Homo sapiens: one gene and its partners. The protein of the gene in region 1 purifies or fractionates together with the protein of each later gene. This does not show direct contact. Each region holds a gene or a part of one and is shown in the gene's direction. Other genes may lie near its edges. The genes, in order: RNASE3, RNASEH1, RCN3, CRIM1 and GTPBP2.

Region 1 (5,171 bases):
GTCGAGCGCCTGTAATCCCAGCTACTCAGGAGGCTGAGGCAGGAGAATCACTTGAACTTGGGAGGCGGAGGTGGAGGTTGCAGTGAGATCACGCCACTGCAGTCCAGCCTGGGTGACAAGAGCAAGACTCCGTCTCAAAAAAAAACAAAAAACAAAAAACTCCACAATTTTAAAGGATGAATATGGTTGCAAATTGGGCAGGTTATGGTCTGCTTAAGACACTTCAATAAGTCTGATATGTCATAAGCACAGATGTCTTCAGGAGCCAGGCAGGTGTCATCACTGAACAGATAGGATAAAAGTCAGGAGGGAGAGTGGAGTCAGAGAACAGCCCTGAGCTAGAGCCCCTTCCACAGACGCAGCTGTTACTCAGCTCTAATTGATACAACACCAATGGTGCACCAACCACCATCATGTGATTTTTAAAGATAAGACAGTAATGAAAACTTTTAGTGAACTATTCCAATGTCAAACTTTATCTTCCAAACCAAACATCATAAATAGCACTGTGTATGCTGAAAAGAAGCACTGTTTAGCCAAGTACCTGCCCTGGGGCTGCAGTCTATGTCTTTTGCCTCATACTATAGACACTTAAGTGCAAATGTTTCTAGCCAGTGTGGCTGTCAGCATCACAGAGGGGATACTCTACGTATCATTCACCTTTACATTCTCATCACCTACAAAAATGATCTCCACACAATATACATGAAAAAATAAACTTGCCTCATGATAAAGCTGCTAATGAATGTCGGCCAGAACAGGACTTCAAGGCAGAGCAATATTAGCTGCGCATTGAGTCCTCACCAGGTCACCATTGTGTCCACATTTACCTAAGGACCCCAGTGATAAAATTATTGCATTTCTAAATGACAGGAAAATTGGACGGTAGTAAAAATTAGGCAGATTAACTGTTGGAAGGTATATTATATCATTTAAGGGTCTACTTTCCATTTTCTAATCTCAAAGCTAGACCAGATTTAACATCTGTTAGTACCCAGGCCTTACCTTTGCAATTCACTTCTCACCTCTGTACAATTTCCCCACATCATCCCCTGTGCCCAGAATGCTCATCTCTTCTCTAAATCCCCTGAAAATCCCCTGCTTATCCTTTAGGACCTGCTGAAATAAACTTTTTTTTGAAGTTTTCCTTATTTCTCAAGCCAAGTGATTTCCTTCACCAGCAGTGTCCCTATGACACCATGTTCACACAAATGCTATTACCTCTATCACACTGTAATACAATTATATGTCTACAAGTACTTTCCTGTGTTTCTCTGAGGGCCAAGAATAAATGTATGCTTTGTGTATCAAACTGTACACTTGACCTCTATACTTTCAGGAATACAGTGCTCTGTCCTTAAATGTTCATTTGTAAATACAGAACCATATTCTTGTTAATATCACAAAATGAAACTTACCAGGAAGATGAATGACAACCCCAGAACACACTGTTTTGTAGAAAATACCATAGGCTGAAAAGATCACAGGAATACCGAGTGCTAGGTTGGAATCTTTCATGACACCAAATGTTCATTCATCCTCTGCCAGATTTTACAACTGTCCTCGGTGTGTTTTTAGGTTATGTAACTTTACACAAAGTGGAATCAATAATCAGGGCAAGACTTAAGAGAAAGTGGATCCAATGCAAGAGGAGTAAAGAAAAAAATTCCTCAATTGTATGGAGCAGATTGTTTTAATTATCTACAGAATCTTGTGCCCCAAGAAATTAATAGCTCAAGTTTCCAGCAAGAGTGGTGGATGAGATGGAGAGCATTTATGTGAGAGAGAACCAAGGATATTACTAAAAATGGAAGGGAAGCTGGGTTTCTCCTGGGCAAACAGCCCTCTGTGGCTCTATTTCTCCTAACTACTATGCCTGCCTTCGTGTCATTTAGTCATTTAGGGGCCTGCCAGAGGACAGTTATAAAATCTGTGGTCATTCTGCCGGCAGCGTATAGTTTTCACCCAGAGTCCAGATCCCACCGGCAAAACTCTGTCTAACACAGGATGACTTGGAATTAGAGTCCGTATAGCAGAAAGAGCAGCAGGGCTGTCCTTGGGTATCCGTTGCTCAGCCAAGTCATCAAATAAAAAGGATGATTGCACAAGTGGACCATGTGTCAATCTGTGGGTTTCTGCATGGCCAGACCCACCAAGGGAAGCTTTATTTAAACAGTTCCAAGTAGGGGAGACCAGCTGCCCCTGAACCCCAGAACAACCAGCTGGATCAGTTCTCACAGGAGCCACAGCTCAGAGACTGGGTAAGTCAACAATCCCCAGAGCTGGGACAGGAGGGGCAGCGACAGGGCAGCACCTGAGGGAGAGGTGAGCTGAAGTTAGTGCTTAGGAGATGTGGCACACTTTGGGGACAGGAAGAAAAGGAAATGCGACCCCAGAGTGGCAGCAGAGGGGCCTGTGGGTTGAGACACTATAGAGTGTGTCATAACCGAGACCGGATCGGGGAGTAGTTACTTCTCTTCTTTTCTTACAGGAAACATGGTTCCAAAACTGTTCACTTCCCAAATTTGTCTGCTTCTTCTGTTGGGGCTTATGGGTGTGGAGGGCTCACTCCATGCCAGACCCCCACAGTTTACGAGGGCTCAGTGGTTTGCCATCCAGCACATCAGTCTGAACCCCCCTCGATGCACCATTGCAATGCGGGCAATTAACAATTATCGATGGCGTTGCAAAAACCAAAATACTTTTCTTCGTACAACTTTTGCTAATGTAGTTAATGTTTGTGGTAACCAAAGTATACGCTGCCCTCATAACAGAACTCTCAACAATTGTCATCGGAGTAGATTCCGGGTGCCTTTACTCCACTGTGACCTCATAAATCCAGGTGCACAGAATATTTCAAACTGCACGTATGCAGACAGACCAGGAAGGAGGTTCTATGTAGTTGCATGTGACAACAGAGATCCACGGGATTCTCCACGGTATCCTGTGGTTCCAGTTCACCTGGATACCACCATCTAAGCTCCTGTATCAGCAGTCCTCATCATCACTCATCTGCCAAGCTCCTCAATCATAGCCAAGATCCCATCCCTCCATGTACTCTGGGTATCAGCAACTGTCCTCATCAGTCTCCATACCCCTTCAGCTTTCCTGAGCTGAAGTCCCTTGTGAACCCTGCAATAAACTGCTTTGCAAATTCATCTGGAAGTGTCTGTGTGTCTTCCTCGGCCGCTCTGCTGTCATTTAGTGACAATCTGCTCTAGAGATTTGGGTTTATCATGAATCTCTCCCCCTCAATATCTGACCAAATTCCTTAATTCCCCCATCATCCTTCATGTGATACCTGATTCCAGGCCTGCCTTAAAAAAAAATCCAATTGAGTCAACTTAGCATTGGTCTCCCTAGCCTTAATATCTCCTCTAAGCAATTTTCCATCCACTGACTCCTCCCCCAACACCAACCTATAACTTGTGTATAGATCTCCACTTGTTTTAGTTGTATTCCAGAATTGAGCCCAATTTGATATTGAGGTCCCATTTGATGCTTTATGGTCCGACTATGGTTTTTATTGACATGATTTCTATCCCAAGAAAAAAAGAGCTGCAGTGAATCAGCTGAAAATGCACGTGCTTCATTATGATTTATGAATGATAAATTTTGATAGAATTGAACGTTATGATAGAAAATAGAAAAGAAGAAAGTAGAAAAAGTCAAGAATGCTATAAATAAGGTGAAACCAAGATAAAGAAAAGTTTAGCCTCAGGGATATTTCTTTTAAATGGGCACATCAAGTCTCCAGCTATTAGCAATCGTAATAGAGGTGGAACCAGGGTTTGAGTCAAATGTGCAATAAGATAAATTGTTCCGACAGCAGTAAGGACAGATTGTAATGCTGACTGGAGGAGAGGTGGACATCTTTCCCAAAAGTTCCATGTCCTGGAGATGGGGAGCCGCTGGTCACGTGGGAAGGAGAAGGGGGAGGAGGAGGAGGAGGAAGTGGGAGCACTCATGAAGGTGAGTTGGCTCCTGCCCATTCTGCCCTCCATAGATGTTCCCAATGGCGAGTCAAAGGTTCATTCAACACCTGTCAGGAAGGGCACAGCCTCGAGAATTCAGGATTTGTAGACCCAGAGAGAGAAGAAATGGATGATGAGAGCCGCTGCCCTGGACTCCAACACAGGGCTTCACTCAGGAATCCATGAGAAACAGGGGAGAAAAAGGGGAAGCCCCTTCCTGCAAGTTGTGGACAGGTGCAGCATTCAAGTGATTGTTCCAGGAACAGAGTGGGTCTTTTTGAATGGCCCGACTCAGAATGCAAGAGAGGTACGATGCCATCAGATCTGCACCTTGGTCCTTCAGTCTGAGATTTCTGACTTCTATATTTCTCCTCCTCTTCCAGACCCTGAGAAACAGCAATTTCCATTCCTCAGATGACTCCATGTCAGTAATGGTGCTTTAATTGGCATCAGACAGCAGCTGTATTGAAGTCTCTCCTCTGGAGAAGCTATTGAGATCTTGCTTCTCCAAGGTCGGGCTGTGAACTTAAAAGTTTGCACAGAGACACTGAGTTTGGGAAATCTCAGTGCTCAACAGAATCCACTGACTCTAGGTAAAACAGGGCATGTCAGGAAGTGAGTGCAGTCTTCCCATAACCTCAGAGTAGCAGAAGGAGAAGGTGGGACTCTGAAAGCTGGAGCCACGTTTCCTGTGAAGAAAGATGGAGTGGACCTTCCTTGCTTCAGGTACCAGATCACAGGTCTCTTCTCAGTCGGGGATGCCTCATCTCTAAAACCACAGGATAGAGGGATCAGTCCCCACCTGCCCCCACACCCTCTCCACCTTGTGACTTCATCCTCTCTCGTCATTCATTCCTTCGTTCATTCATTCATCCAGCAGTCATCTACTGAGCAGATACCTTGCTCCAGGCACAGTTTGAGGGAGTGATGATGCAACACAAACCAAGACAGGTCCCTGCTCTTTTGAGGCCACATTATACAAGGATAAAAATAAACATACAAAATTGTTCTAAGCATACAAAATTTTGCTAAGTGTCAGGAGGAAAAATACACAGCATAGTACACAGAAAATTACACAGAGCAGCACAATATAGAGGTTCTGTATGTGCCACAAAAGTGACAGGGCAGAGTGTCACCAGGAAAGACTTATCTCAGAGAATGAAATCTGAACAGGAGGAAAAGCAGCCAGTCATGCAG
Region 2 (6,738 bases), on another chromosome or scaffold:
TGAAAACTTGTCTCTAAAAATACAAAAATCAGCTGGGCGTGGTGGCGCATGCCTGTAATCCCAGCTACTCGGGAGGCTGAGGCAGGAGAATCGCTTGAACCCAGGAGGCAGAGGTTGCAGTGAGCCAAGATCATGCCACTGCACTCTAGCCTGGGCGTTGGAGTAGGACCCGGAAAAAAAAGAAAAGAAAATAAAGAAAGAAGAAAAGGAAAGAAAAGAAAGAAACAAGAAAAGAAAGAAAGAAAGGAGAAAGAAAAGAGAACAAAGGAAGAAAAGACGAAAGAAGGAAAGAAGAAGGAAGGAAGGAAGGAAGGAAGGAAGGAAGGAAGGAAGGAAGGAAGAAGGAAGAGAGAGGGTTTTGGCACTGTGGAAAGTCATGTGGATGATCCTGCAAGCGTCCTCAGGTAATTCCAACCTAGGACTTCTCAGGGAAGATGAGTCCTTGTGATACAGGACCAGCCAGTGGGCACAGAAAAGCAAGCCCTTGGTAGGTCAACCCTCAGATATGCTGACGAGGTGGGGGCAGCTGTCAGGTCATCCTGAGAGCCTTCCCGGGCATCTCTGGGCTTCCTCAGATATCTACACAAGGGTAGGATGATCAGTCATAAATGGACTTTAGGGACAGCTGTGTGTGTCTTTTTATTTTAAAATAAGAATCCGTCTTGAAGTGCAATAGGTAGGAATGAGGAATGAAAGCTATGGCCAATTTAAATTAAAATTAGGAAAGCTGAAATGTTTAAAATTGATGTTCTTTGGCCAGGCACAGTGGCTAATGCCTGTAATCCTAGCACTTTGGGAGGCTGAGGCAGGCGGATCACTTGAGGTCAGGAGTTCGCAACCAGCCGGGCCAACATGGTGAAACTCTGTTTCTACTAAAAATACATAAAAATTAGCCAGGCGTGATGGCGGGCGCCTGTAATCCCAGCTACTTGGGAGGCTGAGGCAGGAGAAATGCTTGAACCCGGGAGGTGGAGGTTGCAGTGAGCCCCAATCGTGCATCGTGCCACTGCACTCCAGCCTGGGCGACACAGCAAGACTCTGTTTAAAAAAAAAAAAAAAAAAAAAAAAAGATGTTCTTCGATTTCACAGAGGAACACAACTTACCACGCCAATGTACGCGTCGCTTTTGCCTGGGCCGTTCCTTCTTCCTAGAATGTCCTGCTTCTTTCTCTTTGTCTAACTCATGTGAATGAACTTTTTAAAAAATTAGTATCCTTCAAAACTGTATTTGCTCAGGCGTTCTGATGTGAGGCCCTCCTGACTCTCCAGGTGCGGGTGCTTCTCTGCTCTGTGTCTCTCACCTCCAACAGCTTGTTCTGCCTGCGCACTATTTGCTGATGTGTTATCTCCGGGGATTCTCGAATTTCTCACCTTCATCCCCAAGGCCTGACAAAATACATGGCAGGTGTGCAAAAGGCTTGTTAGAAGACCTTAAGAAAATTAAAGAAAAGTGGTTTAAAAATAATTCGAATAACAATGTTTGCCAATGGAGACTTTTTTTTTTTTTTTGAGACGGAATCACGCTCTGTCGCCCAGATGCAACCTCCACCTCTCGAGTTCGAGCGCCTCTCCTGCTTCAGCCTCCTGAGTAGCTGGGATTACAGGCGCAGGCGACCACGCCCGGCTAATTTTTGTATTTTTAGTAGAGACAGGGTTTCATCATATTGGCCAGGATGGTCTCGATCTCCTGACCTGGTGATCCACCCGCCTTGGCCTCCCAAAGTGCTGAGATTACAGGCGTAAGCCACCACGCCCCTCCAACCCATGAACACTTTTAAAATTACTTGATTTGCTTACAGAGCAAAAGGTCAAATGGGGAGAATTCTAAAAGTTACCTTCTCAACTCAGTTTTCTCCCGGGTCGTGGTGCTTGAGGCACTGGATATCCCCTGGTTAAACACCCACGTGCAGTGGAGCAGGGAGGGGACGCGCCCCTTCGGGGGTGGGCGCCCAAGGCAAGGGGAGGAATGCGGCTTCCACGGCCTCCCCTCTCGCCCTCCTTTGTGCTTATTCTAATTCATGAATTCTAACATCTTTCTGCCCACTAAAAAATGTGCATTCATTCATCTGGCCACAGCCCTTACTGTAGATCCGCATCCCTGGAGCTCTCGAGGAGCCGCGGTTACCGCACGTGGGTGCCGGGCGCCAGGGGGTTCAAGGGCTTCCCGCGGTGACCCGAGCACGCCGGGGCGTGGCCCCCGAACTGCGGCCTGGGGGCGGGGAGAGAAGGGGCCCAACATGGTCCATCTCGACCTTCCTCTGCCGGGCCCAGGGCTTCAGCCCCGCTCCCATAGGCCCCGCCCCATCCCAGACCTCGCCCGCCTTCGGGATCTCAGCCCTGGCTCCGCTTCTTCAAGTACCGACAGGAAGTTGACGAGTTCGGGCTCGTCAGGGGCCGAGCTCCGGGCTCCGCCCTACGACACCGCCCCTCCCTAGGCCCCGGCCCTCATCAGGACTCCGCCCAGACGTGCGTCATCTTCCCGCGCCGGTGACGGAAGTGCGGTGTTGAGCGCCGGCGGCTCGCGCCCACGCTGGGCCGGGAGTCGAAATGCTTCCCGGTGCCGGGAGTGAGCGATGAGCTGGCTTCTGTTCCTGGCCCACAGAGTCGCCTTGGCCGCCTTGCCCTGCCGCCGCGGCTCTCGCGGGTTCGGGATGTTCTATGCCGTGAGGAGGGGCCGCAAGACCGGGGTCTTTCTGACCTGGTGAGTGGCCCGCCCGCCGAGGCGCCTCCCTGCCGGCATCGGGGTCGAGGGAGGCCGGAGCCCGGCTAACCCCGGCGGCGGGAGCCTGGCGGTCCGAGTCTGTGCCGCGCGCTGTGGCTGTGGGTGGTCGGGGGACCGCCTCGTTTTCCTGCTCGGCCGGCGGGGTTCCAGGAGGCTCATGGCCTGGGACTGGAACGCACCGAAGACTTGTTTGAAATATCAGAAACGTCGCGTAAAGGTTAGGGGTGGCCTAATAAACCCTGTGTTTAATCCTCCATCTTTGTTGCAGTTAAAGTGCAACAAAAAGTGACACGTAATCAGAACGAACCCCCGTTACCAGAAGACTTTCCGTACCAGCTAAATTGGGATTGGAACTCAGTACCTAATCTTCCCTTTTAAAAAAGGCAAATTCTAATAAGCCAGTATTTGCAGTTGGATCCTTGTAACAACCCTTGGAGGTGAGAGGGATTATTCTCACTTTCAGGTATAGTTCTTGGGGTCAGGAAGTTCCCAGGGCATGTAACTGACAGAGAAAGGACTTGAGCCCAGCTGTTCTGACTGTACCACCAGAACTCTTCCCACTACAAGATACCAAAGTTCGTTACCTGTGTTTCCCCATGCACGGCAGCTACAGTATTGAGGAAGAAGCATCTCAGAAGTTGACCTTTTTGTTGTAAAGAAATGGTTAATATTTTTTTCAAAGACCGCAGTATTTTGTTATGCTTTGAGTTTGACGAAAGCCTTATGGTGCTGGTGTGCTGGCTGGCTGGCATACAGTAGAACACAGGTGTAGAGTCTGACGTGCAGGATAAAACTATAAGGTGCGACTCTGCCCTTTTCACGCAAAAATTGGTCCTCTATATCCAGTTTGCATCCTCAGTTTCAGCTAACCATAGATCAAAAATATTTGGAAAAAATTAAAATAGAATACAGTTTTAAAATACGCATAAAAAGACAATACAACTATATAGATTGTATTAGGTATTATAAACTAGAGATGATTTAAAGCATGCAAGAAGATGTGTGTGGGTTATTTGCAAATACACCATTTTATGCAAAGGACTTAAGCATCCTCTGATGTTGGTATCTGTGATGGGGTGGAGGACTTCCTGGAATCAGTCTCCCTCAGATACCAAGGGACAACTGTATTTCCAACCTTAAGAATCTCAATAAAAAAGGGGATAAGTTAGAGAAGGAAGAAGGAAATAACATTGCACATCTTTTCCAGGAATGAGTGCAGAGCACAGGTGGACCGGTTTCCTGCTGCCAGATTTAAGAAGTTTGCCACAGAGGATGAGGCCTGGGCCTTTGTCAGGAAATCTGCAAGCCCGGAAGTTTCAGAAGGTAGTCACCTCTCATATCAGTGTGACATTTTAACCTATTCAAAGGCTTTCATATGCCAGATGGCATTTGATCTATATAGCTACCCTCTAGGCATGTAGGGAACCTCGTGTGATTGTTTTCATTTTACAAATTAGGGAACAGACTGAAAGCAGTTACAAATAGTGGTTCATATTACTTACAGTATTAGGGATAAGCCAGGACTCAGCTCTCCTGTTCCATTCAGCCTTTTATGCCATAATTCCTTGTCTTTTTTTAAAAAAATACTTGTCCAGCCTGGCCAACATGATGAAACTCCATCTCTACTAAAATACAAAAATTAGCTGGGCATGGTGGCGCACACCTGTAATCCCAGCTACTCGGGAGGCTGAGGTGGGAGAATTGCTTGAGCCCGAGAAGTGGAGGCTACAGTGAGCCGAGATTGCACCACTGCACTCCAGCCTGGGTGACAGGGCAAGACTCGTCAAAAAAAAAAAAAAAAAACTTACATAGTTATTGGACTGGATGGGCTACAGTTTACAGGAATGAGTGTGGTTCTTTCCATGGCATGCCCCTTTGTGGTGTTGCCTTTTTATTGAGAACAGAGTCACACAATCTGAATTTCTTCTTTTTTTTTTTCCTTGAGACAGAGTCTCTGTTGCGCAGGCTGGAGTGCAGTGGCACAATCTTGGCTCACTGCAGTCTCTGCCTCCTGCGTTCAAGCGATTCTCCTGCTTCAGCTTCCGGAGTAGCTGGGATTACAGGTGCGTGCCACCACGCCCGGCTAATTTTTGTATTTTTTTTAGTAGAGATGGGATTTCACCATATTGGCCAGGCTGGTCTTAAACACCTGACCTCAAATGATTCACCTGCTTTGGCCTCCCAAAGTGTTAGGATTCCAGGCATGAGCCACCACGCCTGTCCAATTTCTTCCAATTTTATGTGTTATAGAAAGTACGGTTATTCAAAGTTTAAAGCCCAATATAAGATTAATTCCCAATATAATTGGAAGTTTAAAGCCCATTATGCAGACTCAGATGAGCAGGGTGACGACTTTAGAGCGCAAGATTTTAAAAATATTTCTGGATCTACACTGAGGAGGTGATCTTACGTGAATGTTACTTACAAACTTTTTACTATAGCAAATTAAGACTGAGCAGAGCATAGTTTTAATTACCTTATCTTGAACAGCCTCTCTAGAGGCCACTGAGATGCTTGAACCTGAACAACTGCTCCTTCGAATCATCGTAACAATCCTGGACAAAGCACAATTCAGAGCGAGGCAGGTTGTGTCCAGAATGGATCCCTGAAGAGTTAGTTTGCAAAGCAGGGTCGACCCTCACTCAGTGCATCTGCTTCACCCTCTCTCTCTTCAATAGCTTTTAAAGGAGATTCTGTTTGAGAATGAGGACACGTGAAAAAGGCTCATCGATGTGACAGTTCTTACTGCTTACTGCATGACAGCCAATAAGCTGAGAGACAAGGTGTTGGGGCAAGGAAGGCGACTTTTTTCCGAGAGCCAGCAAGTCAAGAAGATGGTGGACTAGTGTCCTGAAGAACCATCTTAAGTTAATAGAACTTGAGACTTCTTTTATGTTAAGGGAAGGGGAAAGAAAGGCGGAGGTGAGATCAGGAGGAGACCGATGAGCACAGACATCTGGATGGCAGCGAGGGTCCAAGGGGATTGTGAAACTTCTCTGTCCTTGGTCAGGCCATGATGCTCCTCCTATAAGTCTTCAACATAACATTGTTATTTGTGTGTACTCCCTCTTTATCTCCTTGGGGGTTAGTTTTGGGAACGGACCACTGTCATCCTTGCTTTAAACTATAAATTCTTCCCATAGTTCACTCGGCCTATACGATACCACTATGGGGATGTTAAGGGAGAATGGAGGCAGTAATGCTGAGCCGCCTCCTCGCTGTTACAGCTGTTCATTTTTCTACCCAGATGGAAAAATCAGTTTGAGACAGAAAGCAGGTTTGAAAATATGGCTTTTTCCTTCTTTGCTGGGTTCCTGATACTTCCTTTTCTTAATTTTCCTTTTCAGTTTTCCTTTTCACAAATTTTTTGTTTTTAACCAATCAGTAATTTATTTGTATCTCAAGTCTTCCAATATAAGTATGTTTCTGTTTTTATTAAGTACTCTGACTCTTAAAGCAAGCTAGTTCTTTTGAATCTACTTCTTTAAACTTTAGAGACCTCCTAGTCAGTGACTTACGTCTATAAATTGAGATTTAGTGCCTTTAATGATTCAGATCTGTATCAAAAAGTCTTAGCCCCTTTTACAGTTTTTTGTTTTTTAACATTACATTTATCCTTATTTTAGAATTATTGAGCTATTTACTGGTTCTTATGGTTTATATAAGCTGATTTAAGGTTAATTTACTTAAAAACCACAATTTTGTGAAGTAAAACTTAACTGACAAGTGTGTTTTTTTCCTCCAAGTCTTATCTGTTCTGTAAAGTGTCCATCTCTGTTATAGTAAGTAAAACCAGTGTTTATATCCGTGTTAAGGTTCTACAAAATGACACTTTAACCTGGACCACAGTATCTGCATTTACTTCAGTAGAGTACCTAGAGGAACGTTTTGGAGATGAGTGTGTGAAAACAAAATGTGGCAGTGGAAACGCCAGCTGTTGCTGACGTCGTGCTGATCACAGTCAAGTGTTGCCCGGCGCCCTTAGGGTTCCGAGAGGTGTGGGTTGAGAAGCTCCA
Region 3 (6,701 bases), on another chromosome or scaffold:
CGCCTCTGCCCATCAGACACTTGGTGCTGGAATCTCCGAGGCTGGGAGGGACTGGGAGCGCCCCAGTTCTGTGTCCTGACTGGGTGGGGTGGAGGGGCTGCTCCACATCTCACAGCGTTCTCTGGCTGCAGAATCTCCAGCCAAGTCCTCCGTGCTCGTGGTGGGAATCGTCATCGGTGTCTTGCTACTCACGGCAGCGGCTGTAGGAGGAGCTCTGTTGTGGAGAAGGATGAGGAGTGGGCTGCCAGGTGGGGGGCAGCGGGAGGAAGAGCCTCTGAGAGAGGGACAGAGACCCCAAGAGAGGGGCACACAGACCTGGGAGGACAGAGACCCAGAGAGGGGGGACAGAGATCAGAGAGAGGTGGAGACAGAAACCCAGAGATGGGAGAACAGAGGTGCAGAGAGAGGGGGACGGAGACAGAGACCCAGAGACGGGGGAACAGAGACCCAGAGGGGACAGAGAGAGGTGCGGACAGAGGGAGGGGGAGACAGACCCAGAGGAGGGAGGCAAAGATGTAGAAAGAGGGGGGACGGAAAATTGGGAGAAGGGGAGACAAAGGCCCAGAAGGAAGGGGATAGAGACTGAGGAAGAGTGTGTGAGACACACACACAAATGGGGGACGCCAGTCAGACCCAGAGCGCCTCAGAGATTCTGATGACCTCTCCCTCTCTCTCTCTCCTCAGCCCCTTGGATCTCCCTTCGTGGAGACGACACCGGGGTCCTCCTGCCCACCCCAGGGGAGGCCCAGGATGCTGATTTGAAGGATGTAAATGTGATTCCAGCCACCGCCTGACCATCCGCCATTCCGACTGCTAAAAGCGAATGTAGTCAGGCCCCTTTCATGCTGTGAGACCTCCTGGAACACTGGCATCTCTGAGCCTCCAGAAGGGGTTCTGGGCCTAGTTGTCCTCCCTCTGGAGCCCCGTCCTGTGGTCTGCCTCAGTTTCCCCTCCTAATACATATGGCTGTTTTCCACCTCGATAATATAACACGAGTTTGGGCCCGAATCAGTGTGTTCTCATCATTTTTCAGGCAGGGGAGGTAAGGGAATAAGTCGGGGGACTGAATGGCGGCTGGGCCTCGGATCTCTCCTACAGGTAACATGCTGCCACAGGGGAACCTGCCAGTTTTATACATCAGGTCATGTATTTTCTTTTTCTTTTTCTTTTTTCTTTTTTTTTAGACGGAGTCTTGCTCTGTTGCTCAGTCCGGAGTCCTGTGGCGCGATCTCGGCTCACTGTAAGCTCCGCCTCCCTGGGTTCACGCCATTCTCCTGCCTCAGGCTCCCGAGTAGCTGGGACTACAGGCGCCTGCCACCATGCCTGGCTAATTTTTTGTATTTTTAGTACAGACGGGGTTTCACCATGTTAGCCAGGATGGTCTCGATCTCCTGACCTCATGATCCACCCGCCTCTGCCTCCCAAAGGGGTGGGATTACAAGTGTGAGCCACCGCGCCCGGCCTAAGGTCACTTTTTTTTTTTTTTTTTAAGACAGAGTTTTGCTCTTGTTGCTCAGACTGGAGTACAATTGCGTGATCTCAGCTCACTGCAACCTCCGCCTCCCAGGTTCAAGCAATTCTCCTGCCTCCCAAGTAGCTGGGATTACAGGCATGCACCACCACACCCGGCTAATTTTTTGTATTTAGTAGAGACGGGGTTTCACCATGTTGGTCAGGCTGGTCTGGAACTCCTGACCTCAGGTGATCCACCTGCCTCAGCTTCCCAAAGTTCTGGGATTACAGGCATTGAGCTACTGTGCTCAACCTGAGGTCATGTATTTTTAATTCATAACTTTTACAAATATTTACTGGATGACTGCCATGCCAGGCATTTTGAGGAATTCTTGGCTACTGTCTGACCACCTGAATCCTTGGAGCCGAAGAGGAGCGAGGAGCAGTGTTCACTCTTGGAGGAAATGGGATATTTCCTCCGGCCCCTTGATTCTGCTCTCCCTTTTCTTTTCTTTTCTTTTCTTTCTTTTTTTTTTTGAGACGGAGTTTCGCTCTTGTTGCCCAGGCTGGAATGCAATGGTGCGATCTCGGCTCACCACAACCTCCGCCTCCCAGGTTCAAGCAATTCTCCTGCCTCAGCCTCCCAAAGTAGCTGGGATTAAAGACATGCGCCACCACACCCGGCTAATTTTGTATGTTTAGTAGAGATGGGGTTTCTCCGTGTTGATCAGGCTGGTCTCGAACTCCCGACCTCAGGCGATCCGCCCGCCTCGGCCTCCCAAAGTTCTGGGATTACAGGCGTGAGCCACCGCGCCCGGCCTTTTTTCTTTTCTTTCGTTCTTTTTGTTTATTTTTGTTTTGTTTTGTTTTGTTTGGTATAGAAGTGTTGGAACGTACACCTCTTTCTTAAACCATCCTGACAAAGGGAAAGGGAAAAATACATTTCCCGTGAGGCGTTGTGACTAGAACAGCTGGAGGTGGACGGCAGAGTGCCGCGACGACTGCCAGGAGTTGTAGTTCTCCCCGGCCGCGTCACTGCGGTGTCGCCCACCCTTCTTCCCCGGGCAGGCCGCGGTTTCCTTTGTGGACGTGGCGAGGAGTGCCCGCGGCACCCCGTGCACTCATTGGCCCCGCCCCGTGAGACGCTCGTGCGAGCTCATTGGGCGGGGGGCGGGGCTCTGCGCTGCCAGAGGCGGGGCCTGACTGGAGAGCGGCCGAATTGGGCACATTTGCGGGAACGCAGAGCGGAGCGTGGAGAGCGGAGCGAAGCTGGATAACAGGGTAAAGGGAGTGGGTGGGGGGCCTCTGTCCAGGGAGGGCGGCTCGGGTCGAGGACCAGGGTCCGGACTGGGAGCAATGACGGGGAGCCTGCCTGACCTCTCGCTGGCCACAACTATGCCCTGCACCTTGCGTGGGATGTGCGCCACGTCTGTCTCTGTAATTCCCCCTGGCAGGTCTGGGACCCCCCTGAGACTCCGTCAGAAGATTCGGTCCTCCCCATAGGTGGCTTTACCTCTAAGCATCCCGCCCTCTTTTCCCCCATCGCCCGCCCTTTTTGAGCCCGAAAGCTTGCAGCCAACTTCCAACTCCCTGTCCTGTCCTAGGTAACCCCTCCACCCCGCCATTCTCCTATCCCGTGTCTGTCCCCATCCCTGTGACCCCTGACCCCTGGCCTTTGCCACTCCCCAGGGACCGATGATGTGGCGACCATCAGTTCTGCTGCTTCTGTTGCTACTGAGGCACGGGGCCCAGGGGAAGCCATCCCCAGACGCAGGCCCTCATGGCCAGGGGAGGGTGCACCAGGCGGCCCCCCTGAGCGACGCTCCCCATGATGACGCCCACGGGAACTTCCAGTACGACCATGAGGCTTTCCTGGGACGGGAAGTGGCCAAGGAATTCGACCAACTCACCCCAGAGGAAAGCCAGGCCCGTCTGGGGTAAGAGAGACATTCGGTTGGGGCGTGTCCAGAGGTGGGGCTTAGGAGAGAGACGCGGGGGTATCGACAGGGGTCAGAGAAATGGCGTGGACTGAACTTCATTTCTTTGTGAGAAATGAAATTCTACCTTCTATCCTTGGGAAAAAGAAATTAAGTTAAAATTGAGGCCTAAAGAGGACCTTTGAGACCGGGCGTGGTGGCTCATGCCTGTAATCCCAGCACTTTGGGAGGCCAAGGCAGGCCGATCACTTGAGGTCAGGAGTTCGAGAACAGCCTGGCCAACATGGTGAAATCCCGTCTCTACTAAAAATACAAAATTAGGCAGGCGTGGTGGTGGGCACCTGTAATCCCAGCTACTCGGGAGGCTGAGGCAGGAGAATCGCTTGAACCTGGGAGGTGGAGGTTGCAGTGAGCCAAAATTGCACCACTGCCCTCCAGTCAGGGCGACAAAGTGAGACTCCGTCTAAAAAACAACAACAACAATAAAAAAGAGGACCTTTGAGGGCAGCAAAATCTGGGTTAGATTCTGCCCCCTAAGCGCTCCTTATTCTTTTGTCCCAGACATCTCCCCTCCCCAAGCCTCAGTTTCCTGCTCTGTAAATGGCAGGGACTGGTGTGGAAAATGAGGTTTGGCCTTTAAGGAGCCCGGCCAGTGCAGGAGAGTGGCAGAGCCCTGAGTTTCAGGGTGAGCTGGGTGGAATGGAGCCCTGTCCACCCTCTCCGTCCAGGCCTGAGCGCAGGGGGGCGCGATGGGAGCAGCCGCCTTCTTCTGTGCATCCTCCTGACACTGATTGAGCCTGCAAAGGTTTATCGAGCACCTGCTATGTGCCAGGCACTGCTCTAGGTGCTGAAGTCACAACAGCTAACACATCTGTCCTCCTGAAGTTTACACTGTGGTGAGGGAAACAGCAAGAAGTCAATAAGTAGAAAGTGGATCAAATAGAGATAAATGCATCCAAGAAAGATAAAGCAAGAGAGTCAGAAAGTGTGGAGGGGAGAGGTTGTTGGTGGGGGGGAGTTGCAATTTTTATTTATTTATTTATTTATTTATTTACTTATTGAGATGGAGTCTCGCTCTGTCACCCAGGCTGGAGTGCAGTGGTGCGATCTCGGCTCACTGCAACCTCCACCTCCTGGGCTCAAGCAATTGTCCTGTCTCAGCCTCCCAAGTAGCTGGGATTACAGGCGCTAGCCACCACGCCCAGCTAATTTTGTATTTTTATTTTTTATTTTTATTTTTGTTGTTGTTGTTTTTGAGATGGAGTCTCGCTCTGTCACCCAGGCTGGAGTGCAGTGACGTGATCTCGGCTCAGTGGAACCTCCGCCTCCCGGGTTCAACCAGTTGTTCTGCCTCGTACTCCCTAGTAGCTAGAGTCCTAGCTACAAGTGAACGCTACAAGTCCTAGCTACAAGTGAACGCCTCCACATCCAGCAAAGTTTTTTTTCTTTCCTTTTTTTTTTTTGGAGACAGAGTGAGACTCTGTCTCCCGGGCTAGAGTGCAGTGGCGTGATCTCAGCTCATGCAACCTCTGCCTCCCAGGTTCAAGCAATTCTCCTGCCTCAGCCTTCCGAGTAGCTGGGACTATGGGTGCACGCCCACACGCCCAGCTAATTTTTTTTTTTTTTTTTGTATTTTAGTAGAGATGGGGTTTCACTGTGTTGCCCAGGCTGGTCTCGAGCTCCTGAGCTCAGGCAATCCGCCCGCCTTGGCCTCCCAAAGTGCTGGAATTAATGCGTGAGCCACAGCACCCAGCCCAGGCCCAGGTAATTTTTCTTTTTTTTCTTTTTTTTTTTTTTTTGAGACGGAGTTTTGCTCTTGTTGCCCAGGCTGGAGTGCAGTGGCGCAATCTCGGCTCACCACAACCTCCGCCTCCTGGGTTCAAGTGATTCTCCTGCCTCAGCCTTCCGAGTAGCTGGGATTACAGGCATGCACCACCATGCCCGGCTAATTTTGTATTTTTAGTAGAGATGGGGTTTCTCCATGTTGGTCAGGCTGGTATCGACCTCCTGACCTCAGGTGATCTGCCCACCTCGGCCTCCCGAAGTGCTGGGATTATAGGCATGAGCCACCGCACCCGGCTGGAGCTGCAATTTTAAACAGGGAACTTGGACAAGGCCTCCATGAGAAGGTGGTATGTGGTATTTGAGCCATGTGGGTATCGGAGTGAATAGCATTCCAGGCAGACAGAACAGTTAAGTGCAAAGGCCCTGAGGCAGGAGTGGGCTTGGAGTGTCAGAGCAACAGTTCTGAGGCCCGTGTGGCTGGAACTCAGTGAGAAAGGGGAGAGAGTGGGAGGTGAGGGCAGAGAAGGAGCAAAGGGGTTCAGCATGGTGGTTCATGTGTGTGATCCCAGCACTTTGGGAGGCCAAGGCTGGGGGATCACTTGAGCCCAGGAGTTCAAGACCAGCCTGGGCAACATAGTGATACCCCGCCTCTACAAAACAAATACAAAAATTAGCCCAGCATGGTGGCGTGCTCCTGTAGTCCCAGATACTAGGGAGGCTGAGGAGGGAGGATCACTTGGGCCTGGGAGGTCAAGGCTGCAGTGAGCCAAAATCATGCCGCTGCACTCCAGCCTAAGCAACAGAGCAAGACTTTGTCTCAAAAAGAGAGAGGGCCAGGTGCAGTGGCTCACGCCTGCAATCCCAGCACTTTGGGAGTCCAAAGCGGGCGGATTGCCTGAGACCATGCAAAGGGGGTCAGATCATGCAATGCAAAGCCTTTTAGGCCACGATGAAGATTTAGGCTTTTCTCCAATTGAGAGTAGAACTGAGGGAGGGCATGAGCTGACTTAGGTTTTGAGAGAATCCTGCTGGCTGCGAGGTGGGGAACAGACTGTAGGGAGCAAGAAGCAGGGAGCCCAGTGAGGAAGCGACTGCGATAGTCCAGGTGGAAGACAAGACAAGATGGTGGTCAGATCAGGGTGGAGACAGTGGCAGTGGTCCCCAGGACTGCTGGCTGGGAGATTGTGCTTGGATGGGCATGCATGAAGGAGAAATGGAGGAAGAAGGGCAGTGACAGGTTAGCACATTTAGCTTAGCACTAATGGCAATGCCAGGCATTGTCCTAAGTGCTTTATTATTGTTATTATTATTATTATTTTGAGACGCAGTCTCGCTCTGTCTCCCAGTCTGGAGTGCAGTGGCGTGATCTCGGCTCACTGCAAGCTCCACCTCCCGGGTTCATGCCATTCTCCTGCCTCAGCCTCCCGAGTAGCTGGGACTACAGGCGCCCACCACCACGCCCAGCTAATTTTTTTGTATTTTTAGTAGAGACGGGGTTTCGCCGTGTTAGCCAGGATGGTCTAGATC
Region 4 (6,057 bases), on another chromosome or scaffold:
TTTGTGTGGTTTGTTGAAGATGCAATGACCGGGATGAATGAGTGAACAGCTGGGTGAGGCAGGGGATGGGCATTATGAAGTTGGGGGATATATTGTAGATGAAACAGATGACCCTAAGGAGGTAATGAGGGGGTGGACTAAAGAATGACGAATGGGAGAAGGGAAAATATTGAATTCATCTTAGCACAAGTATATCATCCTTTGAAGAATAATCCAAAACACATTCCAGACATTAATTGTGAAATTCCTGAAAAATGTGGGTGTGCTTAACATCTCCCAGGCTATGGTGCAAGCAGAGATGATAGTGTTGCTTTAGCCTGTAAATACAAGAGGGTAGGAGGTGGTAAAATGAGTGGAAGGGAAATACATTTAGTGAAGCGGGTTCCTGTAACACTGTGTTCCGTATGGCACGTTTGGTATCAGGATTTTGGAGACACCCCAGTAAAGCTCATTTAATTATTTGAGGGAGAAACAGTAGACTAGCCAAGCATGCATGAATAACACATTGAAAGCTTTCCTTCTCAGAGGTCTAATTCTGCAAAGCTGCATTTTCAAAGATCTGACTTGCCTTTGCATGGAAATCAGTCATTCATTCATTGGTCTTCTATGCTGTACAAGGCCTTCTGCTGGGGTGAGGGGGAAACTAGGGAGCCCGGGGACCTCTCCAACATATTCTTTGCTCTGTACACTTAATCAAGATAAGAAATAAAGACAGCAAGACTGCAAAAAGTCTATTATGTAGACTTGCAAAAAGTCTACATAATAATATAAATTCAAGCCAAGTAGAAGTGATTTTGCAAGTCTGTGTATGATTAATTGGCTAGTGAAATATATGGATAAAATTAGTTGTAGGAATTAAAGCATCTGAAGTGATCTCTTGAGGCTCTGGTGGCAAAGCAGAAAGGGGAATTTGAATTTGAACTAGGTTTAAAAGTGTGAGTAGTAGCCCTTTCTTTTGGCAGGGGAGGTGATCCTACCCATTCTCCTTAGAGCCTGTGCAATTGGTCTCAGTGTTTCTCAACATCTAAGAATGAAGCTGCATTCTTAATGCTTTAGTAGCTGTGCTTCAAAACGGCAAGTTTCCTTTTGAGAGTGATTTTCTCTTTGTTCTAGCTTGTTTCACTAGGCGGATAAGCGTGGGCAGTAAACTGGGAGGTGTCCCTTTATCAGCACCTCTCAGCTTCACCCACCCTGCTGCTTGCCCTGGGCAGTAGCCTGGTCACATCTTTGAAAACCTCTGTTTAGTCAAGACTTCCTAAGTCAAGACAGAGGAATGGTTGAATATACCTCTATGTAAGAATACCCTCAAGGTAAACACTAAACTCTTACGTGTTTTATCTTGGGCCCACATGAAAAAAGTAAATGTTTTTAAAGAACCTATTTTCCTTTGTTAGTTGCAAAGTGAACAGGTATCAATTCCTTACCTCCCTCCTCCAGTCCCAGTTAATTCCCCACATGAAAATACCTACATGTTGGTGGAAAAGTGTAATGTTCAAGAACTTGGGGCCGGCCGTGGTGTCTCATGCCTGTAATCCCAGCACTTTGTGGGGCTGAGGCAGATGGATCGCCTGAGGTCAGGAGTTCAAGACTAGTCTGGCCAACATGGTGAAACCTTGTCTCTACTAAGAATACAAAAAAATTAGCCAGGCTTGGTGGCAGGCCCCTGTAATCCCAGCTACTAGGGAGGCTGAGGTGGGAGAATTGCTTGAACCCAGGAAGCAGAGGCTGCAGTGAGCTGAAATCGCACCACTGCACTCCAGCCTGGGCGACAAAGCAAGACCCTGTCTCAAAAAAAAAAAAAAAAAAAGAACTTGGTTTCTGGGGTCAAATCTGCACTCTGCTTCTGTGTGTCTCAGTTTTCTCATCTGTGTAGTCAGGTTAATGATAGGGTTGCTATAAGGACTCAGTGCATCCCTAATGAGCAGTTAAAAGAATGACTGGCACATGGAACATGCTTACTAACAAGGCTACTAACCAGTATAAGTGAAACAATTTTACTTGGGCTCAGTCTCTTGTTCTCTTAATCCCCATCTACCTCAGTCATTGATGGTAAGCAGTTAAGGAGGTTGGGCTCTTAGAAAGGGAGCAAATTGTTACTGAATTCAGCAGTCGTCGCCGCCCCCCCCCCCCATGACTATCTTTTTATACCTTGTCTAAATGATTTCTACAAAGTTTGTATATTTTGAGTAATGTTTTAGGTCTGATATTATTTTGCATTGATTTGTAGGAATTATAAATGTAACCATTTATCTGTGAACAAATAATTAAAAATACTTAATTTGGGGAGGAGGCGGGAACCTAGATGTGCTATAATCAGCAGTGTGCACTTTGCTTCACATTATCTTCTGGGAGGAAATTTTGCTCCTAGCTCCTGAGTGTGCACACTGATGACCACTGCAGGATTTGGCCTGGCTTGAGCAAAGAAACAGCTCGACGCCATGGGGGCTATGGTTCCAACCTGCTGCTGCAGTTGGTATAAACTAGGCAAAACCAGAAGTCAGAGGATTATCCATTCCTCTTGTTCTTTTTCTAGCTCTACCTGTTCTTCTGCCATTCTTCTGCCTGAAAATATTCATGAGCATCGCCTATGGGTCTTGTCTCTGTGCTTTACAGTAGTGACATCACTTGTGTAAGCCAGTTTTTCTGTTAGTCGTCGGTACCTCCTAGGTTCGCTGTGGGGGTTAAGTGAGATAAAACTGTGCTTCTGAAATTTTAGTGTGCACACAAATCACCTAGGTATTTAAAATTGCAAGTCTGATTAAGTTAGTCTGGGGTGATGCCTGTGATTCTACATTTCTAACAAATTTCTGGCTGATGCCAGTGTCACAGGTGCCAGGACCACACTTTTAAGTAGCACAAAGCTAGTACCTATGTATACAGCATGTATCACAGAGTATGCATATTAAAAGACCTGATAAATGTTACCTGCTATTATAGTCATTATTTTTCAGCCAAAATAAATAAGATATGGTCCTTGTTTTCACACAGGCCATGATCTGATGGTAAACTGGAAAAGCAGACAATTCATTACAATCAGTTCAGTAAGCCATGAGATAACGGAAATGCCAAGCATGTCAGGAGCAAGTAAGAGGGAGTCTAACCCAAATCTGACCACCAGGAAAAGTTTAGTGGAGGATGCAGCAACAAGAAAGACCTGAGGGTCTCCTCTCCTCCCTCCTTTTTTCCTGCACTTCTTGTGCAGGATGTTTTAGGAAAAAGAAAATAGGGCTTGGGGCTAGACAAACCTGCATTGAAATCTTAAATCTGTTATTTTTTTAATCGTGAGATCAGCTTGTTTAGTTTCTCTGAGCTTCAGTTCCCTCATCTGTGAAACTGGAATATTAATAGCTTTCTATTAAGTAAATATTGTAGTGAGGATTAGAGATTTATATATATGATTACATAGATGTATATATAAGATTGTGTGTGTGTGTGTATAGTATGTATGTGTATATGCTAGTTTCTGGTACCAAATAGATTTTTTAAAATAATATTAATTTTAATTTCCATTCTATTTTCTATCCTTTCCCATTTTCCTCTTTGTTAGCTTTCTCTGTAAGTTTAAAAATTTACCTTGTGGGCACACATTTCCTCCAAACTTAACTAAATCTCTTCAAAGGGGTGGGAGTTTCGAGGGGGAATTCAAATGTCAGATGTTTGTCAAAGAGAAAAGAACCGTGAAGTACCGAGAACAGGGGGCTGGGAATACAGGGTCTATGCACCAAGGAAACATGCGTTGGTTTGATCCAGTGCAACTACAGTTCCCAGCGCCTTTGGCATTTCAGCAGAATGTGAACACTTGCTTGATTTTGTGGTTTGAGCCCCTACATCCAAAGAGCTATTTCAAATTAATATTTATTTAAAAATGGCCTTTTAATATTAATGGCATATGGTTTTATGACAGTGAATTAAATTTCCTTTTATTGTTAGAACTTTTTGAGGATTTCTGGACATCACTGGAGACGTTGGAGACCCCAAGGATATAGCCAGGCCAGGTTGATATATCTCACTGAGGTTACAGAAGGAAGCAGCGGCAAGCCTAGCCGATTCAGAGACCACTGCGGGCTTGGGAATGAGCAGGAGAGGGTGTGAGGGCCAGAGGCCATCTGTGTTGCTTTTCTCTCTCCCAGTCATTCTAGCCATCTTTGATGTGGACTAATAGTCGAGGTTGGCCATGGGTTTGCACTGTCTCTAGGGAGTCTTTGTGATATAGTGCGGGGTAGGAAGAACACCTAGAATCAAAATATCTAATGTTACTAGCTGTTTAGTTCTTAGTGTGGGTATGGTCCCATTTTAGGAGAACAGAACTATGAACTATGTTTGTGTTTTTTTTTTTTTTTTGAGACAGAGTCTCACTCTGTTGCCAGGCTGAAGTGCAGTGGCATGATCTCAGCTCACTGCAACCTCTGACTCCCTGGTTCAAGCGATTCTCCTGCCTCAGCCTCCTGAGTAGCTGGGATTACAGGCATGTGCCACCACGCCCAACTACTTTGTGTATTTTTAGTGGAGACCACGTTTCACCATGTTGGCCAGGATGGTCTCTCGACCTCGTGATCTGCCCACCTTGGCCTCCCAAAGTGCTGGGATTACAGGCGTGAGCCACCGCGCCCAGCCCAGAACTACATTTGCTTAACTGTGACTCTTTCCTTTGTACCTGAAAATAAGTATCATTTTTATCCAGTAAATATTGGCTGATAATTCATAAGGCAGATGCTTTAAATTGGCTATTGTAGAACAAGGAGAAAGAACTTGATGAAGAGAAAAATCCTTGGAATCAGTGGTTTACAACTTTTTTTTTCCTTCCTGATGATCAAACCGTATTATCGCATAGTAGAAATTGGATTTTCTTCCAGAAACTACTTTAGTACCTCTCATTTGTAGCACTTCTATCAAGAGTGCTGGTATTCGGACATGTAACCTACAAACAAAATCAGAAAGATGTCAAAATAACACCCTAATTCAGACTATCCTGAGAACATTTGTCTTCTGAATATTTAAGAAAAAAAAATAAGTGTTAATTATATTGTAGGGTGTTACCATTTTGTATTTCAAGTTCCTGAGAAGAGAATTTGAACAGTTTGCTATTTGGAAATTTTAGCAACCAGCTACCTTGCCTATGGAAAGATTAAAAAAAAAAGGAGAGGGAGTAGATGGTGGTCCATAGGCTGTAACTGGAAACTATGCCTGTCTTATTTAGCATTTCAAAACAAAAACCATAAACAAACATCTCAGATTCAAAACAGAAAGGAATTTCTGGCAGGGCAGAATGAAACCTGAGACTGCAGAGTCCCAGTCTACAAGAGGTAACTTATTTAGCTTCTTATCCAAAGGCCACAGCAAAACGTTTCACAGCTGTGATTAAACAAAAGGCATCTTTTGTTGGAGAATTGTGATACTTCTTTTTAAGACTGCGAAAGACCTGCCAAAATAAGGCAAAGCTACCTTGAGGATGTTTGACCTGAACTAGACTTTATGAAGTAGTTGGACCACTTCAGGCCTTATGGTGTGAGGAGTGTGGGATGCATAGGCTTGGACCTTTCTGTGTGTGTGTTTATAAGTCTGTAGAGACAGAATATTCCATCATGTTATCAAATGCAGATCTCGAAAACCTTTTCTCACTTCCCATATTTGGGAGCTTTGCTTTTTTTGAAAAGTATGGGCTTTTACAGTCTGAGTGAGGAAAAGGGATGGATTTTAGACAGTTTTGTCTGTGGAAGTCAAAGTAGAAGGATTTTTAAACAGTTGGAGACAGAATGGGTATACTGTGTGCTTTTCAGAACCACTGAGTTCCTATATTTCAGGCAGATTTTAAGAAAACTTATTACCACTACCTATCACATCAAAATGAAAGACCAAATAAATTTCTGTGTTTTAATCAAGACTGTGACTGTATTTGTGTATATCCTAGCTTGTTTCAGAAAGGGTTTGAGGCTGCCCAGAAAGGTGAATATTACAGAATTCTTGTATGTGATAACATGATAAAGGAGAAAAAAACAGCCATGGCTTTTGAATCCCCCTTCATCTCTTAATAGCCCAGTGACTTAAATAAAACCCTTC
Region 5 (6,528 bases), on another chromosome or scaffold:
TTTCAACCACTGAAGACCCACATAATTGGCCTATGGTCAGCTAGGCCCTTTTGCAGATTTTGGTCTCTCTGCTCTCACTGCTTTGGGAAATTATGCTATGTGGACAGCATGATCAGTAAACCTGCCTCCCTCCTTGTGGCCCTGGGAGGAAGCCATGGACTCTACCAAGTCTGAACCCCTGAAGGGATCACCAGAGGTAAGTCATTATTGCTGCTTCTAGTTTTCCAAGGACAACTGAGGTCTGGAGAGAAGAGTTGCTTAATTTCTTTTTCTTTCTTTTTTTTTTTTTTTTTTTTTTTGAGACGAAGTCTCGTTCTGTCACCCAGGCTGGAGTGCAGTGGCATGATCTCAGTTCACTATAACCTCTACCTCCCGAGTTCAAGCGATTCTCCTGCCTCAGTCTCCCGAGCAGCTGGGACCACAGATGTGCACCATCATGCTGGGCTAATTTTTTTTTTTTTTTTTTAGTTGGAGTCTCGCTCTGTTGCCCAGGCTGGAGTGCAATGGCGTGATCTCGGGTCACTGCAACCTCCGCCTCCCGGGTTCAAGCGATTCTCCTGCCTCAGCCTCGCGAGCAGCCGGGATTACAGGCATGCGCCACCACGCCCAGCTAATTTTTGTATTTTTAGTAGAGACGGGGTTTCGCTGTGTTGGCCAGGCTGGTCTCGAACACCTGACTTCAGGTGATCCGCACACTCCTTGGCCTCCCAAAGTGCTGTGATTTACAGGCGTGAGGCACCGCACCCGGCTGAGTTGTTTAATTTCTTGACCGTGTATGAGCACCTCGCAGTTCGAGAAGAGGGGAGAAGTGGACACACTGTGAGTGGTCTGAGTCATGAGACAGCCATGCGGCTGTGAATTGAGCCCTAGCGTCCTGACTCGCAGCTCAGCAACATAACTGCTTTTCCACCCTGCCTTTCTGTGTTCTGTGCACTGGCTTATGTCGCTGAATGTATGTACTCTGTAGAGTGCAACAGCACTAAAGAGCTGGAGATTGCTTCACAAGAGAGTCAAAAGCCAAAAATCCCCTGTGGCCCTAGGCCAAGTTTCTATTCCCGGCCACTGCCCCGCCCTCGTGGTGGTTGGTGTAACCCGAGCCCTAGCCCCGCCCGAAGTAGGGGCCAGGCCCCTCCTACAGTCTTGGCCGTTTAAAACCAAACTCAGTTCTTCCCGATTGGTTCTGCTTCAAAACAAAGGGGAGGAGGAATACTCGCTTTGGGTATGCTTGCAGCCTTCGGGGAGGAAGCTGGTTTACGGGTTCGGGTCTCGTGTCGGGGCCACCGCGGTGCCTCCGGTTATTAAAACCAGCCCCTGGACGGTGCCAGCCTGGTAATAAAGCAGTGACTACTATGTAAAGGTAGCATAATCATCCCAACAATAACAGCCGTAATTTGGCTAATCACCATCCGCCTCCGCCCTGGCGTTCGCCCTGACTCACCCCAGCGGCACGCGGGCCATAGGGGAAGAAACTGAGGCAGAGGCGGAGCCAGCAGGCTGGCGGCACCAGTAGCCTCAGTTCTGCAGCTCTCGAGGTCCAAAACCTGTTGTCTAGGATCCGCGCTAAAGGGCCAAATCCCGGAGCGCCCACAAAGCTCGATTCTGATGTAAGCTCTTCTACGCTGGTGTCCTCGCGTCCCCACCCCAGGCCTCGAGGCTCTAAATTCCCCCCAAGTCCTAGAAAAAGAACATAGCGCGAGGACTGGAAGTCAGACTACAGCTCCCTTAAGCCTTTGCGCGCCAAGGCGCGCTCCTTCCCCACGCCTCCGACGACTCCCGCGGCCACTTGCGCCGCGATGCCTCCTGGGAGTTGTAGGGCGGCGACGTGTCATTTAAGTGAATTCCCAGGCCTGGGGACTCTATATCCCGTGGTGCCCCGCGGCTGTTTCTGACGCGACCCGGAGGCCAGGGAGGTGGGGGGCGTAGCTTGTGCAGAGCCCCACCCCACTCTGCTCAGGCCGGCCGGACACGGCAGTGGCAGTAAGGGCGGCGGCGACGGCGGCGGCGGTCGGGGGAGGGGCCGGGCGGGGGGCTGGCGGCAGCGGCGGATGGACTCGCGGGTATCGGAGCTGTTCGGCGGCTGCTGCCGGCCCGGAGGGGGCCCGGCCGTGGGCGGAACCCTCAAGGCTAGGGGGGCCGGCAGCAGCAGCGGCTGCGGGGGGCCAAAGGGAAAGAAGAAGAACGGAAGGAACAGAGGGGGCAAAGCCAACAACCCCCCGTATTTGCCCCCCGAGGTGAGCACCTGAGAAGTGGTAGGGCGGGAAGAAGCCACTCTTTCCGGCCCAGGACTCTAGGGAGGCGGGACCCAGATAATTAATCTCCCCTTCCGGTGTCGAGACCCCAGGGAGGAGGGGCACGGGAGGAGAACACCTCTTTCAGGTCCCGGGACCCCAGGGAGGAAGGGCAGAGACTGGACTCTCAGGTGACAGGACCTCAGGGAGGAAGAGTGGAGAGGGAGGACTCCCCCTTCTGATCTAGATTACCCCAGGAGAGAAGTAGAGAAAGGGGATCCCAGGAAGAGCACCCCGACCAACTGCGTGTGCCGCCATAGGGCAAGAGAGACTGCATCCTGGGACGAGAGGCAGACAGTAACCACCACTTCTTCTAAACTTGTTCCACAGGGAGAAGGGGAGTACCCGGGAAAAGAGCAATATGTTCCACACGGACACACACACAGTACTCGGGAAAAGAGCAGTATGTTCACTACACACACACACACACACACACACACACACACACAGCCTAAGCCAGTGGTTATCAAACTTTGGCATGTATCGAATCACCCGGATTGCTGGCCCCCAACGCCTGGCCAATTTTATTTTTTTATTATTTATTTATTTATTTTTTTTGAGACGGAGTCTCTGTTACCCAGGCTGGAGTGCTGTAGGGCTATCTCAGCTCACTGCAACCTCGGCCTCCCGGGTTCTCAAGCGATTCTTCTGCTGCAGCCTCCCGAGTAGCTGGCATTACAGGTGCCCGCCACCACGCCCAGATAATTTTTGTATTTTTAGTAGAGATGGGGTTTCACCATGTTGGCCAGGCTGGTCTCAAACTCCTGACCTCAGGTGATCCACCCGCCTCGGCCTCCCAAAGTGCTGGGATTGCAGGCGTGAGCCTCCGTGCCCAGCCTAGAATTTCTGATTCTTTCTTACTAGTGAGGATGGGCCTGAGAATTTGCATTTCTTATAAGTTCCCGTGTGATACTAATGCTGCTGGTCCCAGGACCTCACTTTGGGAACCATTGGTCTGGGCCCTAGACTGTCATTCTTGTACCACATTTTTTGAAGCCACCCATCCCCAGAAAAATGATTAAAAGGTTTTTATTGATGGGGAAAAAAAATAATCTCCTTAACACACCATGAAGTGGAGATTATGAGTGAAGACCTGTTAGGGCCTGGGAGCCAGACAGCCTTGAAGGGATGGAATGATAGGAAGGGAAGAGGAAAACTAAAATATCCAGAGAGGCGGGTAGAAAAATGCAGACTGGCCAAACAGGCAAATCCCATATCCCTTTGTACCTGGGAGGGGAAGCCTCAGGTAACAGGGTGCTTCTGTGCTGTGCTACCCACTGGAGCTAGAAGAGACTGTGGGGTGGATTCAGGATTTCACCTCCACTGAGGTTAGGGGGCAAGAGGTAAAGGCCATAGCGAGTCTGTCCGCTTCATTACATTTTCTGAGTTTTTCTGTTCCTCTCAGCCCCAGCTTTGGAGCTCTTCTCCTCTCTCACCTAGATCTTCTCGGTCATCAGGCTTGTAGTGACCATTGCTGAGCTCACCCTTTGGCTCTGATCCAGAACCTCTTGCAGCCTCTTACTCTAGATGACATCAGCTGAAAGGGGCAGGCAGGGAGGAAATGGTGTTTCCTAGACCAGTGACAAAGAAAGGTTTTAACAGCCTGGGCACAGAGGAGACATAGACTTCTGGGAAAAGCAGGTTTGAGGCCCTGGAGGTGGGGAGGAAGGGATGATCTTGCATCTAGGAAGAACGTGCTGCCAGTGATCAAAGAATGGATTGATTCAGTGTTCTGTTCCTGGCTTAAATGGGTGACTCCTTGTGTCCTTATAGGCCTTCCCTTCATAGAGGCTATGCTGGGGGTGAATAGAGGATCTTGTCTGCCACTGACCTTTGACAGGCACTTGCCTAACCAAGTGCCAGTGGGGCTTCCTGCTTTCTCAAGTTAGCTACCTGGACCCAGTGGGAATTGAGGGGAAGTAGGGATTGGGTCTGTACAGTGTATGGTAACTGCTCACTGTTTCTTTTCAGGCTGAAGATGGAAACATTGAATATAAAGTGAGTCCTAGGCTGGGGAAAAGCAGGGGCTGGGGTAGGTTGTCCTTGCCAGTGTGGGATAATTTCTTTTTTCTTTCTTTCTTTTTTTTTTTTGAGATGAAGTTTTGCTCTTGTTGCCTAGGCTGGAGTGCAGTGGCGCAATCTCAGATTCTCCTGCCTCAGCCTCCCAAGTAGCTGGGATTACAGGCATGCGCCACCATGCCTGGCTAATTTTGTATTTTTAGTAGAGATGAGGTTTCTCCATGTTGGTCAGGCTGGTCTCGAACTGCTGACCTCTGGTGATCCACCAGCATGGGATAAGTTCTCTGAGAGCCTTCCAACTTCATAATTATAGCAGTTTAAGGATATGGTTCAGGTTAAGGGCTCTGTACCTCGTTCTGTTGGAGGGGGATCAGGTATGAGTTTAAGTGGAAAGAGAAAGTCCTGGTCCTTGCAGCAGAACAGGTGGGGACCATGTAGGTTTGGGAGGAACACCTCTGATTTCACCTTATGATACCCCACTTGCCCTAAGTTGAAGCTGGTGAATCCATCCCAGTACCGCTTTGAGCACCTGGTGACACAAATGAAGTGGCGGCTCCAGGAGGGACGTGGTGAGGCCGTCTACCAGATTGGGGTAGAGGACAATGGGCTGCTGGTGGGGCTGGCTGAGGAGGAAATGCGAGCTTCGCTCAAGACCCTGCACCGGATGGCAGAGAAGTATGCTTCCCCTTCCCCACCAGTTCTCCTTTACCTGACTTGGGGGGACCCATGCATACCCAGTTACCTAGGGCCTGAGGGGCCAAGGTGGGACTTTCCTTCTCTTGACAAAGGGCTGAAGTGGGGAGGGTTAGTGTTTTGGTCCCCTCCTCACTGGACCTAGGCTGTTTTGCTCCTTGAATTAAGATATGTATATTTGTTTTAAAGGGAACTGTGAATGAGGAATAGATTGGAGGGTGGTAGGAAGTGCACTAAGGTATTGGGAGCTCTGTGGGAGGTGCAGGAAGTCTGTAGGTCCAGAGCGAGCCTGGAATAGGAGAAGGACAGGTGAGATATGGCAGCTGTGGCCTTGCTGTGACAGGGTTGGGGCAGACATAACCGTTCTTCGAGAGCGAGAAGTGGATTATGATAGCGACATGCCCCGGAAGATCACCGAGGTGCTAGTACGAAAGGTCCCTGACAACCAACAGGTGAGCACACACCCATCCCTGTCTCTCATGTCCACACTGTGGAAGGGCCCTGTGGTGGCAGGCTGTCTCCTGGCCTGGGATCCTGGGGGCTTCCAGTTCATCACTTGCTCCCTAGGGAGCGTCACTGCCCTTGACCCAGTCTTCAGTTAGAGGGGTGAGAGATTGGAGTTCTTATCTCTGGCAATTCATCCACAGTTCCTAGACCTCCGTGTGGCCGTCCTGGGGAATGTGGACTCTGGGAAGTCAACTCTGCTTGGAGTCCTGACCCAGGGAGAGCTGGACAATGGGCGGGGCCGGGCTCGGCTCAACCTTTTCCGCCACCTGCATGAGATTCAGTCTGGCCGAACCTCCAGCATCAGCTTCGAGATCCTGGGCTTTAACAGCAAGGGAGAGGTGCATGGGATCAATGGGACCCAATGGGGCCAGACTCTGAGGATGGGATGGTAGTAGTGAAGGACATAGGATGGGGGTAGAGTGTGGAGACTTTTTGAAATAGTATAGATGAATGCCCTGAGGGGACTGTGAACAAGCTCTGCCCCTCTTAGGAAATCAATGGGGAATCAACTAAATTAAATAAAAAATGGGGTCAAGATTAAGAGGCAGGGTCACCCAGGGAATGGTTTAGGTCCTGGCAACTCTGAAGGGGTTGGAAGGGCTGGCAGGAGGCACTGAGGGCCCTGGGCCCTGGGCCAGGTGGTGAATTACAGCGACTCACGGACAGCAGAAGAGATCTGTGAGAGCAGCTCCAAGATGATCACCTTCATCGACCTGGCAGGCCACCATAAGTACCTACACACCACCATCTTTGGCCTCACATCATACTGCCCCGACTGCGCCCTGCTCCTCGTCAGTGCCAACACTGGGATTGGTACGAGGCATTAGGGCAGGGACAGGGCTGAAGGGGGGTGCTGACTCTCCTACCCTGGGCCTCAAATCTTGGAGACAGACCAATGCTCCTCTTCTTCCCTCTCCTCCCTCCTGCATTCTCACTCTTCTCTCCTGCTGCTTGCTGTCCTTATGAGGCAGCTGGCACCACAAGGGAACATCTGGGGCTGGCCCTGGCCCTGAAAGTGCCC

Evidence for each region.
Region 2: the proteins of RNASE3 (region 1) and RNASEH1 purify together in Homo sapiens (co-immunoprecipitation; one large-scale study listed by IntAct). This does not show direct contact.
Region 3: the proteins of RNASE3 (region 1) and RCN3 purify together in Homo sapiens (co-immunoprecipitation; one large-scale study listed by IntAct). This does not show direct contact.
Region 4: the proteins of RNASE3 (region 1) and CRIM1 purify together in Homo sapiens (co-immunoprecipitation; one large-scale study listed by IntAct). This does not show direct contact.
Region 5: the proteins of RNASE3 (region 1) and GTPBP2 purify together in Homo sapiens (affinity purification with mass spectrometry; 2 studies listed by BioGRID and IntAct, with this or other methods). This does not show direct contact.

What each region holds. Positions count from the first base shown.
Region 1 is NC_000014.9:20,889,191-20,894,361, forward strand, and holds RNASE3 (eosinophil cationic protein precursor), read left to right. Parts: upstream 1-2,194; 5' UTR 2,195-2,261; intron 2,262-2,491; 5' UTR 2,492-2,496; coding exon 2,497-2,979; 3' UTR 2,980-3,158; downstream 3,159-5,171.
Region 2 is NC_000002.12:3,554,096-3,560,833, reverse strand, and holds the start of RNASEH1 (ribonuclease H1 isoform 1 precursor), read left to right. Parts: upstream 1-2,500; 5' UTR 2,501-2,573; coding exon 2,574-2,701; exon of another isoform or gene 2,702-2,939; intron 2,940-2,990; exon of another isoform or gene 2,991-3,159; intron 3,160-3,929; coding exon 3,930-4,045; intron 4,046-6,738. UniProt on the Homo sapiens protein: Endonuclease that specifically degrades the RNA of RNA-DNA hybrids.
Region 3 is NC_000019.10:49,525,326-49,532,026, forward strand, and holds the start of RCN3 (reticulocalbin-3 precursor), read left to right. Parts: upstream 1-2,677; 5' UTR 2,678-2,733; exon of another isoform or gene 2,734-3,056; intron 3,057-3,141; 5' UTR 3,142-3,147; coding exon 3,148-3,389; intron 3,390-6,701. Other genes in the region: FCGRT (IgG receptor FcRn large subunit p51 isoform 1 precursor), read left to right, coding at 132-248, 685-794. UniProt on the Homo sapiens protein: Probable molecular chaperone assisting protein biosynthesis and transport in the endoplasmic reticulum.
Region 4 is NC_000002.12:36,361,412-36,367,468, forward strand, and holds part of CRIM1 (cysteine-rich motor neuron 1 protein precursor), read left to right. Parts: intron 1-6,057. UniProt on the Homo sapiens protein: May play a role in CNS development by interacting with growth factors implicated in motor neuron differentiation and survival. May play a role in capillary formation and maintenance during angiogenesis.
Region 5 is NC_000006.12:43,624,680-43,631,207, reverse strand, and holds the start of GTPBP2 (GTP-binding protein 2), read left to right. Parts: upstream 1-1,943; 5' UTR 1,944-2,045; coding exon 2,046-2,231; intron 2,232-2,291; exon of another isoform or gene 2,292-2,419; intron 2,420-2,618; exon of another isoform or gene 2,619-2,649; coding exon of another isoform or gene 2,650-2,691; intron 2,692-3,866; exon of another isoform or gene 3,867-3,929; intron 3,930-4,259; coding exon 4,260-4,286; intron 4,287-4,797; coding exon 4,798-4,982; intron 4,983-5,343; coding exon 5,344-5,452; intron 5,453-5,647; coding exon 5,648-5,845; intron 5,846-6,145; coding exon 6,146-6,320; intron 6,321-6,478; coding exon 6,479-6,528. Other genes in the region: MAD2L1BP (MAD2L1-binding protein), read right to left, coding at 1,439-1,458.